Regions from separate parts of the Homo sapiens genome. Here region 2 is reported to be linked to region 1. Evidence: microRNA targets listed by miRTarBase, many of them from high-throughput screens and not tested one by one. Region 1 holds a microRNA gene; the other region holds the end of a gene's coding sequence.
Evidence for each region. The annotated mature microRNA hsa-miR-134-3p reads CCUGUGGGCCACCUAGUCACCAA and lies in region 1 at 1,292-1,314, opposite strand. An mRNA with a match to its seed (bases 2 to 7 or 8) in the 3' UTR can be bound and repressed. Matches are read on the target gene's strand: a 7mer-m8 pairs with bases 2 to 8, a 7mer-A1 pairs with bases 2 to 7 and ends in A, and an 8mer does both.

Region 1 (4,391 bases):
CTTCTTGTGCTCAGCTGGCCATGCAGGCAACATTTAATAATGCAAGGATGTCAGTGGCACAGGAGTCATTAAATATGAAGCAAACCACACACAAATGTGTGTGCAAAAGCAGGCTAAGCACTGCCTCCTTGGTAAACCTGGGATTCCCTTACAGGAATTCTCTGGAGGGTGTAAGGCTGCTGTGGGTTAGTAAACCAGGGGTCGCACAGAGTCCTGTTCCTGTTTTCTTCTGTATCCCGACGGCTGACTAATAAAAGATGCTTCTAGATGCCCAAGATTCAACTCCAAGGTTGAATTTGATAGGAATAAAAAAAGAAGTCAGCCATGTGTATTTCAATCTTAACTTTTAAAAAATTAGGGCATCCCAACAACCTCTCTCGATTTTCCTAAAGTTGGTAGTGCCCCAGGAAGTTGTTTTAGGGTCAGCTTGGACTCTAAAGTTAGTAGGTCAGTTACATGCATCCTCAGGAAAATGCTTGCCATGGGGTCAGCCATCCAGAAACCTACCTTGGAAGCAGCACTGGCTCAGGAAGCCCTCCGAGGCAGAATTTGACACTAAAAGAGAGGAGAGCCGTGTATGACTCGCTTTGATGAATCGAATTCATCACGGCCAGCCTCTCTCCAAGTACCACACATGAACACTGGTGAGAAATCCATTGCCTCTCTGGCAGAGGTGGCCGCCCTTCTCGGGAGTCCTGTTAGGAATGGGTGGGATAGTATTGGGTAGTGGGCCGAGCCGAGTGACATACACCCACATTAAGTGCATGCTCACCCGAGGCGCACTTACCTTAAGGGAGTGCTGAGGGCACTGCCTTCTCCCCAGCAGCAAGGATGCAGTTCGTCCTTCCAGACAAGACAGGGAGCTTTTGCGTAGCTCACTGGTCCCTGACAGGAGAATCATGGCCGCTTCCCAAAGCCGCATTATCTCCATGGAGCCTCCTAGGGAGAGACAGGATGCTGGGTATTAGAGGACGACGTGACAGACCTAACAAAGGCAGCACATGCTCTGGGAAGAAGGATTCAGTCACACACCCAGGAGAAAAGCTGGCCCACATCAGGTCCCTCAACAGAAGACAACATGGCGTCCCACATCGGAAGTCAACACTTCAAGGAGGCTGTCACAGTGGTGAAGGGGCTGCCAAGGCTGACTCATTGCATTTTAAGTAAACATACACCCCCAAGAGCACGTGTCATCGCAGTCCACCAAGCAGTCACAGCAAGTCCATGGCCGCTTCCCCAGAGTTGGTGGGAGCTCTGGAAAGTCTTCCTGGAGTGGGAGTGATGCTGAGGGTTGGTGACTAGGTGGCCCACAGGGTGAACACAGTGCATGCCCCTCTGGTCAACCAGTCACACACCCTGGACGGTGCTGACACCAACATCTCTTCTGGAAGTCGGCCTGGGGCCCAGGGAGCCTCTCTTCAAAGTCTTGTGAGGTGACGCTGGTGACAGAACCACAGCTGATTCCCCAGAGTTGGTGAGACCCATGGGAAGACCTCCTATAGGTGCATGGGAGGCTCGGATTATCGGGCCAGGTGACTTACAGCTAGGTCAGCGCATTGTCCATGGCCCGCCATCCATTCTTGGCTTTTCCACATGGTTGACACAAAGACTATCTTTCCTGAAGCTGCCATTGTGTCCAGGAAGTCCTTAGAGGTAGCATTTGGTACTGAAAAAAGTGTTGTCCGTGAATGATTCGTCATAAGTAAAGCGAATCCACCACGAACAACTTCTCTTCAAGTACCACAGAAAAGCAGAGACAAGACAGACAAGGAGTCCCCTTCCACTTCTCCAAGGGGAGTGGCTGCCAACCACCATCCTGTGGACAGAGTGGACACCGAGCATTAGTGAGGCAGCTTACGGGTGTCCTAGGAACACACTGGAGTTTGGGCAACCCTTCACTCACCTCCCTTGGAGTGGTGCTGGCACAGTCCCCCTTCCCTGGAGTTGAAATTGTGGTCCTGAATCCACACGCACAAGGTTTAGAAATAAGAAGAGGGAAGCCACTTGTCACACGCCAGGAGCACTCCGCAGTGTGTAGACCCCAGGGTTTCTGAACAGGGCCTTGGACTTCTCAACAGAGCACACTGAGTTATCCATCAAGCACATCAAGGTGCCAGCCAGGCTCCCGCAGGGCCCACTGAACTAGGGAGGTCCAGAGGGGGCCCCCTTTTGCCACTGCAGGTGCCCCTAGAGAAACTGCCCAGCTCAGGCACGCCAGGCTCCTGGTAGGTTCCCCATCACTGCCCTGGGTAGATTCTCTATCAATGCCCTTGTGGTCAGAGTGATCTTTCCAACACAGACCACGCATCCCCCCTGCTCACAACCCTTCCAAATCCCCCATCTCACTCAGAATAAAACCTGGAGTCCTGCCTCTCCCAGCTCAGACCCAGCGACTCCCAGCAGCTCGGTTCAATCCCACTGGCCTTCTTGCTTTTTCTTAAAGATGCCAGGGGGCTTTCCATGGGCCTTGCCCTCCTCCTGAAATGCTCCTACCCCAGACCTTCCTCTGGTCCACCCCACTCCATTCCCACCCACATCCTCAGAGAGAGCTTTCCAGACCCCTGTATTTAACACAAAGGTCCACCTGCTTTTACCTCTTTCTGTCACTGTAACCCGCTTTCCCTTTCCCCATAAAACCTAGCAGTGGACAAAATTACGCTTCCTAATTCATGTGTTCTCATCCGTCTCTTCCACCAGAATGTAAAGTCCACATGAGCAAGAACTTGATTTCATTCACTGCTCTCTGCTAAGGTCCAGAATCACCTAGAACACAGTGTGCACTCCATCACTATTTATGGAATGACCAAGTCATTCCTTGTTATTTGATCAACTCATGAACCATGTAGTTATGCTATAAACAAAAGAATCTGATTTTTTTAAAAAGAGAGAACTTTATCGAAACAAAATCATGGTGGCCAAAGTCACCAACCCTCTCAATAGCCATTATGGCCATGGGCAGGACACAGCTCTGGCAGGAGAGTGAGCTCAGGGAGACGCCTCAGAAACAAAGCTCAGACTGCTCAACTAACTCTCCACAAACTCCAACAGATGTGGATGCCAAGTCTCCCCAGAGGGCGGTGCTGCTTCCAGAAACCCTTCCCTGGCAAGATTTGGCACTCAAAAATTCTGCCCTGGAACAAAAGCAATAATGATGACCAATTACCTATCAGTCAGTCCGGCTGATGACAGTAACACTACCGAGCCAGCATGTCTCCAGAGATTCATCTTACCAAGGGTGAGGGTCACTTGGAGCAGGTGACAGACGTCTTGTGTGAATGGGCCTCTCACTGGTCAACTTCCCCCAATAATGTAGTGCAGACACCAAAGCCCCTTCCAGAAAATCACAGCCTTAGAAGTAACCATCTTCCTCAGAGATTCGATTCTGGTCATGGCTGTGGCACATGAAGAAGCTAGTGCACTGCGATGGCCCGTTCACATACATACCTTGGGTGGGAGGTGAAGCCAAGACCCCTTGCCTGAAGGCGGGACGCTGTCCGGGAAGCCTTCCAAAGCAGTATTTGATACTGAAAAACTGGATGTCCCTGTATGATTCGTCATAAATTAAGCGAACACAGCAGGGATAACCACTCTTCAAGTACCGAAGGCTGACGGTGACGGCCCACGTCTTCACCAGAGTCTGCCTTCCTTCCAGCTAGTCCGCCTGAGGATGAATTGGGGACAGAGGGTTAGGAGAGTTGAGGGGTGCACAATGTCAATCAAGCCCTTGCTTTCCAGCCAACCATGCATTCTTGCCCCTGGAGAGGGACGAAGGGCAACAGCTCCTTCCAGAAAGCTTCCCCAGCAAGATCCATACTCAAAAAAGGCACTCCCTCATGAGACTGGGCATAAAGAAAGCAAACCCGGCAAGGAGAAGGTCCTTTCAAGTGCCAGAAAATAGCATGGCCTAGGAAACCACCACCTTGTCTTCTGAGCTGATGTGGCCTCCAGAAGTCACTGGATAGGTAGGGACTGTGGATCAACTGACATACACCATTTATAAAATGTACGTTCTCTGATCAACCATCCATTCCCCTATCATGGACAGCACCCTGCCTCCAGGTCAGGGTCCTGCCAGGGGACATCTCCGGGGAGTTTGTCCTGAAAAACAGTGGTCCAATATGATAAGCCACAAACCCAGGCGAGGCCCCACGGTCAGCCTCAACCCTGCTCTGCCCCCGAGGCCTCCAGAGCCTGGAGGCCACAGCATGTGAGTCTTACTCCAATGAAGACACAGGCTCTGCCATGGGTCATCCTTACGAGTATTTCACGAGGTGCTGACACCAATGCCTCCTTTAATAATTCCTTGGAATTATATCCAGGAAAGAGGTGATGCTGAGTTGCATTTGCAGCAGAGAAAGCATTGTAGAGGGAACCTGCCATTGACGAGACCT
Region 2 (4,391 bases), not on the chromosome of region 1:
CACTGCACCCAGCCTCATGTACAGTATCTTATGGTATCTTGTCAACTCAGAGGCAAGCAGAAGAAATAAGACGTGAGCCACCGCGCCCAGCCTCATGTACAGTATCTTATGGTATCTTATCAACTCAGAGGCAAGCAGAAGAAATATTTAGCTCCATTTTATAACTTGATTTCCATTCCACTATTTTCATTGTACTGCAATGTGAGATTAACAATTCCACCCCAAGTATTTGAGGTGTGGGAAGCTGGATGTAAAAACACCATTAAAAACAACTCTTTTCAATGGCTTTCTAAGGTTGGCTGGGCTGAAATGGCAGGTTGTGGATGCTCCGTGGCACATCACACTGCCCCTTTCTTCATATTAGAAATTAAATCAGCCGATGGCAATATTGAATTCCAGGTAATTTTCTTTCTTTCTTTTTTTTTGAAACAGAGTTTTGCTCTTGTTGCCCAGGCTGGAGTACAATGGCGCAACCTCGGCTCACCACAACCTCCGCTTCCCAGGTTCAAGCGATTCTCCTGCCTCAGCCTCCTGAGTCGCTGGGATTACAGGAATGTGCCACCATGCCCGGCTAGTTTTGTATTTTTATTAGAGACTGGGTTTCTCCATGTTGGTCAGGCTGGTCTCGAACTCCTGATCTCAGGTGATCCACCTGCCTCGGCCACCCAAAGTGCTGGGATTACAGGCATGAGCTACCATGCCCAGAGAATTCCAGGTAATTCTCATGGTGAATGAATTCCATTCATACTGTTGTTCTTCAGTCTGCCAAATGGATATTACATAACACATTTGTGTGCCATGATGGGCCTTACATATATTGACTCATGTAATTCTCACAACTTTATGAGGTGGTATTAGTCGCATTTTCATTTCATGAAATTGAGGCACAAAAAAATTAGACATGTTGAAGATCATACATCATCCCTCACCTGGGCTACAATAGCCTCTTAACTAATCTCTGCTTCTCCTCTTGTCCACACAACAGCCAGAGAACCTTTAAATATGTTAAGTATGTCAAGCCTCTGCTCAAACTGAGTTTTTCCTGTCACACTTCAGTGTGGCCTATAGGCCCTAAGTGATGTAGCCTTTGCTTATATTGTCTTCCACTCTCATCCTTGTTCACAGAGCTCTAGCAATTCTCATGTTTGGAGGTCCTCAAGGCAAAACTCAGCTTTATTTCCCATTCCCTTAGTATGGAAAGCTATTTCCCTATCTGTGTGTCTTGCTTTTACATCATTGCTCTGCTCTCCTCAAAAACCTTCCCCTCTTATCCCCATCACCGTCCTCATTTTGATTCTTCATATACATTTATCCTTTCCTGATTTTATACTGTTTACCTTTTTATGGTTTGTTTTCCCCTCTAAAACATAAGTTCCATCTGGACAAGGGCTTTGCTCAGTCCTATTTTCCTAGGCCCTAGAATCAAACCAGTATTGGGTGAATGGATACTGAATGAAGCTTTACCTAAGTGCTTTGTCTTTTACTTAGTTTCAGTGGTTAAATCTCAGAAAGCTTAACAGCAATTCTAAGCATGTCTTTATCATAAAAGGTTAAAAACTGTATTATTGGGATATTTTTTCTCTTTTTATGTTTACCTACAAGCCCGTAGAAAGTATAAATACTCAAAAGATAGCAGACCAGGTAGGCTTAAGTTACTTTTACAAAACAGTAGAAATACCTTCAAATATTTAGCACTGATGAACTTACTACTGAGGACATGTGGACTCTACTAAGAAACTAATGATGAAATTCATAATTGGGTGTGGTAGCACATGCACCCAGCTACTCGAGAGGCTGCAGCTTGAGTCCAGGAGTTCAAGGCTGCAGGGAGCCATAATCATGCCACTGCACTCCAGCCTGGGAGACAGTGAGAACTTGGCTCTTAAAAAAAAAAAGGAAAAAAAATTGATAACGACAATTTGTAATGGTCAGTCCTATCCACCAGTCTAAATGAAAGTTTAAAAATTTTCATATACTGCACAGAAGTAGATGGAGTCTTAATGCTAGGTAAGGGTAAACAAGCTGAAATAGCAGTCAGTGACTTCAGAGACCATGAAACCAAAGTTAATCTTCTAAGTCCTTTTAATTGTTCTTATAAACTAGCATAAGATATAAACTTAAGTAGTACACATGAGTTTTATAATTTACTAATCTCTGACAGATAGCTAAGCATAGCACATCAGAGCATAACACAGTGTGAGGGAAATAAAGTGTACAATGACATCTTCTATTCTGGACCTAATAATTCAATAGAGAAAGAACTACTTGTAGTCACTGTGGTTACAGAAGGTTTCATGGACAGCGAACATAAAGCTCTACTAGCTAACAAATAGGTCTTAATGATAAAAACGTGGGCCTTCAGAGAACTAAAGGTACCAATGTGTGGCAGTCCAAAATTACGAGGAAAATGAGTTCCCTTCATGGGTCACATCAGCAATTTTTTTTTTCCCCTTTTGAGACAGAGTCTTGCTCTGCTGCCCAGGTTGGAGTGCAGTGGCATGATCTAGGCTCACTGCAACCTCCGCCTCCCGGGTTCAAGCAATTCTCATGCCTCAGCCTCCCGAGTAGCTGGGATTACAGGTGCCTGTCATCACGGCTGGCTACTTTTTGTATTTTTAGTAGAGACAGGGTTTCACCATGTTGGCCAGGCTGGTCTCAAACTCCTGACCTCAAGTGATCTGCTTGCTTCAGCCTCCCGAAGTGCTGTGATCGTAGGTGTGAGCCACTGTGCCCAGCTACCTCATCAATTCTTAATCTATAAACCATGGATAGGCTTCGGGAGAACCCAAGAACCAATGAAATCTGTTGGTAAGTTTTATGTGTGCGGTTTTCTACAGAGAGGGTCAACAGCATGTATATTTTCAAAGAAGTCTGTGGTGCAAAAGAGAGTTTATTGTTAGAAGTCCTTGGGCAATCAACTTGGAAAAGGGTGGATTGAGAATGGGGGCTGTCTAGATCAGGATAATGTTGAATTTGACCCTCACTTGAGGCTTTTGTACAGAGGATGAGAAGACGGTAAATTCAAGGGTTAATCAGAAATTAACACCAACATGACTTGGTGATGAGTGAGATGTGAAACGTGAGAAAAACATCAATGATGAAATCAAGCTTCTGACTTGCAACAGTGAGTATACCAAGAGCTACAGGCTTGGAAGATGAATAAAGTTGGGAGCATTCTGTTTTTTCATGAGTGCCCATGGGACAGACAGGGAGAAATGGACAGTTGAAAGTACAAGTCTAGACAGGCACAGTGGCTCATGTCTGTAACCCTAGCACTTTGGGAGGCTGAGATAGGAGAATTACTAGGGTTCAGGAGTTTGAGACGAACCTGGGTGACATAGTGAGAGCTCATCTCTACAAAAAATAAAATTAGCTCGGCATGGTGCTGCAAGATTATAGTCCCTGTTAGTCGAGAGGCTGAGGTGGGAGAACTGCTTGAGCCCAGGAGGGAAAGCAGCAGTGAACTGAGATCACGCCACTGCACTCCAGCCTGGGCGACAGTGAGACCCTGTCTCAAAAAAAAAAAAAAAAATGCAAGTCTGGAGAAATATAGCTGGGAGTCAGTAATGCCAGTTTTAGCTGAGGGAGTTAAGATCATTTAATCAGTGTTAAGGAAGAAACTCAATAGTAGTGACCACCAATACTTAAGGAAAAAGGATAAAGTAAGAGGAATGATAAAGGCTGGCTGAAATATCTTGGTGTCTAGCCTAAGAAAGGAGGGGTTAGATGCTCATGTTTATTAATATGGATCTAGAGAAGCATTTATTCACTAATACATTTTATTTGTGTTCTCTAATTTAAAATTACCTTTTCATCTTGCTTGATTTTCCTTCAGCTAAATTAGAAATTTGTAGTTTTTCCCCTAAAAAATTCAATGGCATTCTTTCTTATAAATTACATTCTCTGATTTTCTTGTCAGCCTGCTTCAAGGAAATCCATGTGTTCAAAATGCTTGCTCGCAGTTTGCTCCATACCAAATGGTTGCTTAACCCAAATATCTGAGCAGCAAATTGAGCTGATCCTTCTGGAGAAAGTACGGTTGAACAGCCAAGACCTATTGGTTCAGCAAGGAAAAGACAGAAAATTGAGCTCAATTAGTAATGAAAATACAACCTTACAAAAAATTTTATACTCAGAGCAGTCCTGCCACAGAAAATAAAAAGCTACTGCATTATTCTAATCTAAAGTAGAATCTGTACAACTGTCTTTAATACCGGAGTGGTAAAGTGATTACAAGAGGAAAAGCAGTCAGTATTACCTGCCATGAAGAGATATTTTATATATATCATCTATCACCCTTCTTATAGAACTCACTTACAAAGAAACTTATCTTTTTGAAACTTCTGTTCACATACACTATCCCTTTCAATCCCTGGCGAAGAACAACTGAA

Region 2: the mRNA of PAICS is a reported target of hsa-miR-134-3p. Seed matches in the 3' UTR shown: 7mer-A1 at 2,871-2,877.

The regions. Positions count from the first base shown.
Region 1 is chr14:101,051,655-101,056,045 of GRCh38, reverse strand. MIR134 (microRNA 134) reads right to left here and starts at 1,359; the gene lies at 1,287-1,359. It overlaps MIR487A (microRNA 487a), which reads right to left and starts at 3,600; the gene lies at 3,521-3,600. MIR382 (microRNA 382) reads right to left here and starts at 1,740; the gene lies at 1,665-1,740. It overlaps MIR668 (microRNA 668), which reads right to left and starts at 788; the gene lies at 723-788. It also overlaps MIR485 and MIR381HG.
Region 2 is chr4:56,459,035-56,463,425 of GRCh38, reverse strand. It overlaps PAICS (phosphoribosylaminoimidazole carboxylase and phosphoribosylaminoimidazolesuccinocarboxamide synthase), which reads right to left. Exons shown (of 9, transcript NM_001079524.2): 9 at 1-4,054. The coding sequence ends at 3,888. It overlaps LOC124900706 (a long non-coding RNA gene), which reads left to right. Exons shown (of 2, transcript XR_007058126.1): 2 at 433-2,116. Among named protein-coding and RNA genes, the nearest start is that of SRP72, 6.4 kb to the left of the region's middle. RefSeq lists an enhancer at 3,229-4,391.